2 linked regions of the Homo sapiens genome follow. The protein of the gene in region 1 interacts with the protein of each later gene in a pairwise test. Each region holds a gene or a part of one and is shown on either strand. Other genes may lie near its edges.

Region 1 (3,938 bases):
GGTTTTTTTGGTAGAAATGAGGTCTGTGTTGCCCAGGCTGGTCTTGAACGCCTGGCTTCAAGCGATCCTCCTGCCTTGGCCCCTCAAAGTGCTGGGATTACAAGCATGAACCACTGCACCGAGCCAGAATATCCAATTATTATTGGTGAGAAGAAAATTATTCCAAAGTTCACCTACTAGTAGAAAATCTTGGTTGTCTGGGAAATTTTAAGTTTACTTAAAATGAACCTCATGCTCACATAAACACACAGGCACATTCTAAACAGATAACGGGAGAGAATTGTTTTAAATTCTTAATTTGTTAATGACATGCATAATCACATAGTACATAGACTGTGTTCATGGCAATTACTTGTATTCTTAGAATGCCAGTTTTTGCTTCATGCAGCCATTTATATTAGAGCAGTGGTTCTCAGCCAGGCACATTTTTGCCCCCTGGGGATATGCAATATCTGGAGACATTTTTGGTTGTCACAGCTGGGGAGAGGGGTACTACTGGCATCTAGCAGGTAGTGGCCAGGGATGCTACTAAACATTCTACAATGTACAGGACAGTTCCCTTCCCCAACCCTCAACAAAGAATTAGGTGGCCCAAAATATTAATAGCACTGAGGATAAGAAATCCTGTACTAGAAGTTGTAAGTTTTTCATCCCCCATGGGCTAGATCTGATATGCAGATGTATTTTATTTTGCCCATACAATATTTCTAAGTAATTTTTAAATTAGTTGATAGCATACAAATTTCTGGCTTGATGAAAATGTAGTTGATGTAGTAACTCTGAGCCTATATTCCAGCAGGATTTGATACTTTCCAGTGTCTACTATCTCCTACTGTCTACACCCACTCCATGGACGCATTTATGTTTCTGCACTAGCCCCTTATAGGCATTTGGGCCTGTGCTCTCTTTTCTGTACCTAATTCTCTAAGTGTGAGGCACAAAGCAGGAACCCTTAACTTTAGGCTACCATCCCTCCACCTGAGCCTCCCCACTTTGATTTCCTTGAACTATTCTCTGTTATCTGCTGCTCTTTTTTTTTCTCAGACAGAGTTTTGCTCTGCTGCCCAGGCTGGAGTGCTGTGGAGTGATCTCAGCTCATTACAACCTCTGCCTCTTGGGTTCAAGTGATTCTCCTGCCTCAGCTTCCCAAGTAGCTAGGATTACAGGCACGTGTCATCACGCCCAGCTAATTTTTGTATTTTTAGTAGAGGTGGAGTTTTGCCGTGTTGGCTGGACTGGTCTCAAACTCCTGACCTCAGATGATCTGCCTGCCTCAGCCTCCCAAAGTGTTGGGATTACAGGCGTGAGCCACTGCGCCTGGCCTGTTAATCTGCTACTCTTCATTTGTCCATCCTCTAACAGTAGCCATGACTCAAAACCCAAGTTTTCCCTGCCTTGACTCAAACCCAAGTTAGCTGCTTAATATTTTTCAAAAGCAGTAATTTTAAGTGTAGTGATTAAGCAAGTGATACGAGATTTTCTGGTGACTGATGAGACAGCTCCTCCAGTACTTTCCTGGGGCTTGCAGGCTGTTCTAGAGATCCTTCTAAACCCTGCTCTGGATCTCTGATGCTGAGTTTTGTAGTTTCTTGGAACCTGCAGAATAAATTAAAACATGAAAAACAAAAAAAATTTTTTTTTCAGACAGGGTCTCACTCTCACCCAGGCTGGAGTGCAGTGGCATGATCTCAGCTCACTGCAGCCTGGACAGCCCAGCTGAAGCAACCCTCCCACCTCAAGCAATCCTCCCACCTTAGCTTCCCAAGTAGCTGGGATTATAGGCACGTGCCACTGCACCCAGCTAATTTTTTTTTTTTTTTTAACTTTTTGTAGAGACAGGGTTTTGCCATGTTGCCCAGGCTGGTCTCAAACTCCTGGGCTCAAGCGATCCACCCACGTCAGCCTCTCAAAGTGCTGGGATTACAGGCGTGAGCCACCGTGCCCAGTCTGAAAAAAGAAAGTCTTAAAGCACTGTGTAAGGTTTAAGAACGGTCTCTCCCAGCACTTTGGGAGGCCATGGCAGGTGAATCACGAGGTCAAGAGATCAAGACCATCCTGGCCAACATGGTGAAACCCCATCTCTACTAAAAATACAAAAAATAGCTGGGCGTGGTAGTGGACACCTGTAGTCCCACCTACTCAGGAGGCTGAAGCAGGAGAATCGCTTGAACCCGGGAAGCGGAGACTGCAGTGAGCAGAGACTGCAGTGAGCCAAGACTGCGCCACTGCACTCCAACCTGGCGACGGAGCAAGACTCCGTCTCAAAAAAAAAAGTCTCAACATTATTACTATTTTATATGGGATGTAAAGGAAAATTTCTAGGGGTATAAAACTGAGATAGGAATTAGGGTAGGGGCTGCTAGGATTTAAGATACAAAACAATTGAGAATAATGGAGAGAAGATACTATTTTCTCCCTTTGACTCAATATCAAAATGGGTTATGGAGGGCCGGGCGCGGTCACTCACGCCTGTAATCCCAGCACTTTGGGAGGCTGAGGAGGGTAGATCACGAGGTGAGGAGATCGAGACCATCCTGGCTAACATGGTGAAACCCCGTCTCTACTAAAAATACACAAAAATTAGCCAGGCGTGATGGCGGGAGCCTGTAATCCCAGCTACTCGGGAGGCTGAGGCAGGAGAATGGCGTGAACCCAGGAGGCGGAGCTTGCAGTGAGCCAGAAATCGCGCCACTGCACTCCAGCCTGGGCAACAGAGTGAGACTCTGTCTCAAAAAAAAAATACAAAAAATAAAAAAAAAAAGGTTATGGAGAAGGTGATACTAATGAGCTACCTTTAAGGAATGCTAGAAAAACAGTTTTATAGTTTTATAAGAAGTCAAAATATACATGATTTTTCTTCAAAAATAAAGTAGAAATAGTTTCAGCTCATGAAATTGGAACTGGAATTGGAAAATGATCTGTTTCAAAATGGAAGAAAACGAAACATAATTTGTCAGATTTTATTCACAACTGCATCACTCTCTAAATTCAAATGTGTTACTTGGAGATCTCTGGATTACTTATTAATGTTACATAAATACAGGATTATGATCTCAAAATACCAGTGGCTATTCTAAAGTTTCCTCCCAGTGGTATTACTGGGTATGACAATTTAGAGAGCTGCAGAATGACAGCAACATTTCAGGTTACCTGGGAAAATCCTTGATTTTGGTCTCTTTCTCTTGAACAGCCCGGGTGCCTTGACCCTTGTTTCTCACAAAGTCTTCCTCCAGCCCAGCCTGCTTCAGGGTGTCTAGATACCACTGTTCTGCTTCTTTCTTGGCTAGATCCTGTGGGATGGAAATTAATCTGTTGTAGCTGTCTTATGAATTACCAGACAATTCTAAATTACTTAATCAGTATTGTTACAATACTGCCACAACCACCACCACCCTTATTGTGGGGCATAGATTTGCAAGAAAATTATTTAACCCTTGTTTTCCAGCCTTAATGTGTATATAAATCACCTGAGGTCTTGTTAAAATGCAGATTTCACATTTGGTAGGTGTCAGATGAGGACTGTAATTCTGTATTTCTAACACTCCCCAGAGATGCCAAACTGTTGATTTGGGAGTCACAATTTTGAAAAGCAATGACTTAGACTTTTGGGAGACAAATGAGACCCAGATTTAAAAGGATGGACTAAAAACCTAAGATTTTAAAGCAACAAACCATTATCAGGAACACTAAAATAAAATAGAAAATAAGCTACACCAAGACTCTTAGTGGAAGGACAGATGGTCTGCATGTGGACCAGCAGAATATTATTTTTTGTTTAAGTATTCAAGAACAAAATCATAGAGTACTTTGTATTTTTCCTAGAGAGGTGAAAGATCTGTTGAGATCTGAAGAGTGAGCTTGCTTAACATTAACATAAAGAAGCATGAGATTTTGAACAATGCAGGTTGCTAAGTAAATCCAAGACCATGTGTGCTTAT
Region 2 (3,938 bases), on another chromosome or scaffold:
GCCCCGGGGCCGGAGCACCTCCGTGGCTTCACTACAGACGACGCCCCTGGGTGGGCTAGGGCACACACCACATCTGTGCTCACAGACCTAAGTGTCTCTTTGGGATACAGGCCTGGAAGCACGTGTGCGGCCCAAGGGCGCCCCAGCCAGCACACCTCTGCCAGCACCTCCTGTCCACCCCTTGTGCGGCCAAGGTCAGGAACGCCACTGGGGCAAAGGTGTGAGTTTGTGACCCCGGCAAGACCCTCAGGCCCAGGGGCCGGTGTTGCAGGGGGTGTGGCCCCCATACCCTGCCTTCACCCAAATCCCAGAGGTACGGGCTGCAGGGGCCAGGCACCCTAGCCATCCTCCTGAGCGACCACAGCTGCTGGGAGAGGCCCCCCTAATTCCCACCAAGAACAACTGAGGCTCCCAGACGGTAGTGGGGGCTTGTGAAGGCCACATGGGGGTCGGGTGGGGTGGGGATCTGATCTCGGCTCCTCCCCCACCCCCAAGCTCTCCCAGCCAGGGCCTGGGGATTCAGTCAGCCTCCAAGTCTCCAGGGGAGACCAGTGCTGCGGAGGTGTGGCTGCGGGTTAGCCAGTCCCAGCCCCTCTCCTCCTGGTCCCCCACCCACAGAGCTAAGCGCTCGCCGCTGCCAGCCAGGACAGGCCTGAGAACCCGCTGTTCCCAGGTGCTGCCCGCCACCCCCAGCGCTGCTGTGGGAAGATGTGGATGGCGCCCCATCCCAAGGTGAACTCCGCCGTGTGAGCGCCACCTAACCCCAAGGGCCAGGCCCTCTTCTGAACACCAACGCCCTGCTTGGCCGTGGTCCCCCACCTTCGGGCAGGGACTTTAGAGAAGAAACCCCTCACCCTGGGCCCTGCACAACCCCCAAGCACCCTGTGCGTCAGCTGCCACCCTAGCCCTGCTCACCGAGGGACCCCCACCCTGGGCCTTGGGGAGCTGCCCTTGGCACTCAGCTGCCGGGGAGGAGTGTGGGGTCACTCCGTGGCTGCCCGGCTCCGCACCTCCCTGCTGCCTGCTCTGGGGCCTGGTGTCCTCCTCCATCCTACTCTTACAGGTCACATGGGCCTCAGGCTGCTGCGCTGCCCTGGGTGGAGGGTCGCGGGGGGAGGACACACCCAGCAGATGCCATGGGGTGGCCAGTGTGAGCAGGCGGGCCCCCATCTGCAGGGTGCCCCCGGAGAGCCACAAAAGACTCAGCAAGGGCGCAGCTTGGGGGGCCCCAGGAGGTGGCAGGCACAGCTGGAGCCCAGGAGGGACCTGATTTCAGAGAAGTGGGGGAAGGGTTCAGCCTCGGCTGCTTGCAGGCCGGCCCCATCATTCCTGTTTGCTTTCTGTTGCTTTCATTTTTCATTTTTAAAACTTATGTTACCATTATTATTTTTATAGAGACACGGTCTTGCTCTGTTGCCCAGGCTGGAGTGCAGTGGTGCGATCTCGGCTCACTACAGCCTCCATCTCCCAGGATCAAGCCATCCTCCTACCTCAGCCTCCCAAGTATCTGGGACTTCAGGTTTGCACCATCATGCCCAGCTTTTTTTTTTTTTTTTTTTTTTTGGTAGAGATGGGGGTCTCACTATGTTGCCCAGGCTGGTCTCAAACTCCTGAGCTCAAGTGATCCTCTCACCTCAGGGCCAGGCCCTCCCACCCACTACCTGCCAGGCACCTCACAGCCACCTCACCCATCCCTCTGGGAATGGCCATCCGGATGCCACGTGGGTCACAGGAGCCCACCGTCGCCATGACAACCAGCCAAGCCCCATCCTGCAGCCAGCGCCACGCACGGGGCTTCCTGATTAAGGCCCACTTGCCCCACCCAGCCACTTTTCAAGTGGTCTCACTCGGTTTACTGCCCCCTCCTTCCAGGCAACATCGGAGGAGAGGGGCTTCAGGCCTGAGGCCTGGGTGTCTGTGGAGCCCAGACGCTGCTGCTCCGCAGATCTGATGATGGGAGCCACCTCCCGCCTCCCTTCCAGCCGGAGACGTGGCATCCGAGGCTCAAGGCGAAGGAGGCTTCTGGCCTGGGAAGGGCCTGGGCCTAAAAGTCGGGGATGGGTGCACGGATGGGCCTCTGTCATTCTGCACCTCCAATCTGGGATCCAGGCAATGCAGCCAGCCACCTGCAGCTGCACCAGGTGGGTGTCCCCTCCACTCATCCCAAGACAGCCTCCAACCACGCCCTGGCACCCACACCCACGTGACCACCCCACTCGCTGCCCGCCGCACCTCTTCCTCTGCAGGTTTCGCATCTTCTGCACGTAGAGCCACAGCTCCAGGCCCACGGGCAGCAGCAGCGGGCGGGGGCGGGGGGCGCCATACACCACCTTGCACACGGCCTTCTCCGCCAAGCTCAGGGCCAGAGGCGGGCCCTCCCCAGCAGGGGATGGCATCGCCAGGCCCCAGGCCCTCCTCCCCCAAGCCAGCCCTCGCCCCACCATGGCCACGGGTCCTGGGGGGTGGGCTGGCCTTAGGCTTCCCTGCCCTCTGACCTCCAGGATGGTGGGTTTAAAGCTCGGCGGGGGACTGCCAGTCCTCCAGCAGGTGCTCGGGGGCCTCCCCAATCCCTGACGTGGATCAAGGGATCAAGGACAGCTCAGAGGCTGGGTCAGCCTCGTCAGCAGCGGGGCGGGGAGCCCTGGGGTAATCCCGTCCAACGTGCTCCTCCAGGGACTGGGACCAGCGGCATTGCCCTCCCGTCAGTCACCCGCCAACTCCTCTGCAAACGTTTATCCAGTTCCCAGCGGGGGCTGCTCTGCCCCAGGACCGGGCTCACTCGGGAGCGCCAGGCACGTTTGTGAATGGAAAGAGGAATGGCGTCCAGAGTGTGTGAGTGCCCCCAGCCCAGCACCTCTTCCCCCAGGCCTGGCCCAGGGCTGGGCAAAGCTGGAATTCTGCGCAGTGGTGGCCCCTGGCCGCCTACCGGTTCTCCAGGCCCCTGTGCCTCCTCTGCTCCACCCGACCCCACCTGGCCCCCTCCCCAGCCTCCCTGGCACCAGCCCACGGTGCCAGCATGGGGCAGCGGGGGGGGGGGGCTCAGAGTCCTCACCATGCCAGCCCCACGTCTGCCGGGCCCTCTGTGCTCTCCCTCACCTGACTGGCCAAGGTGCGAACAGGGCCCCAGGTCTGACGGGGTCAGGGCCACGTGGGGCCTGGGGGATGCCGCTCCCCAGGTCGTGGGGCTTGGGAGGCATGGACCACGTTCCCCTAGCCTGGCTCCTTTCCTCAAACTTCCCAAGCCCCCGGCGTCCTTCTCAGCTGGGCTCCCAGCTTCTCCAGCCACCTGTGGCCCATGAGGAGGCTGGAACCTGACAGAGGCGGGGGACTGGGGGGGCAGGTCTTATCCCTGAGACGGCCACGGGGTCTGAGCAGAGGCAGGAATCCAAGGACAGGTGGGGGTCTTCAGGCCCTGGGCTCTCTCCTCCTTACCTTGAGGCCTTGTGGGCTCAGGGGTCCTACTCAGGCCAGACCATTTGTCCACCTTCAGGACAGCTTGGCCAAAGGCGGGGCAGGACCTAGAATGCCTCTCCCTTGCCCAGTCCTCGTCAACAGACTGAACCCTCAGACCCTCCGTGGTGGCTGGGGTGCCATCACCAAGGCCAGTTCCCAAGCCAGCACTGCAACTCCTACTACCTCCGGCCACCCGAAAGCCGTGTCCCTCAGTCCCAGCCCTGCTAACAGAATTGGCACCTGCCCCTCCCCAAGGCCGTCACCTACATGCTGGCCCCTGAGCAGATGCTGAAGAGACTCTGCTCACAGCTGGCTCTATCTGCCCCATCCCCCAGCCAGACACCCCCAGGGAAAACCACACCGACTCCCCTTCAGTGGCCAGGGGAGGGGAGAGAGTGAGGCGCAGGACCGGGCTGGGAGCACAGCGGGAGCTGGAATCACTGGAGAGGGGACTGAAGGTCACCCAGCTGTAGGAAGCACCTGGG

What was found.
Region 2: the proteins of FAM161B (region 1) and GPSM1 interact in binary tests that used the Homo sapiens proteins (3 or more experiments, as listed by UniProt).

The regions. Positions count from the first base shown.
Region 1 is NC_000014.9:73,932,799-73,936,736, forward strand, and holds part of FAM161B (protein FAM161B), read right to left. Parts: intron 3,291-3,938; coding exon 3,151-3,290; intron 1,597-3,150; coding exon 1,458-1,596; 3' UTR 1-1,457.
Region 2 is NC_000009.12:136,330,465-136,334,402, reverse strand, and holds part of GPSM1 (G-protein-signaling modulator 1), read right to left. Parts: intron 1-3,938. UniProt on the Homo sapiens protein: Guanine nucleotide dissociation inhibitor (GDI) which functions as a receptor-independent activator of heterotrimeric G-protein signaling.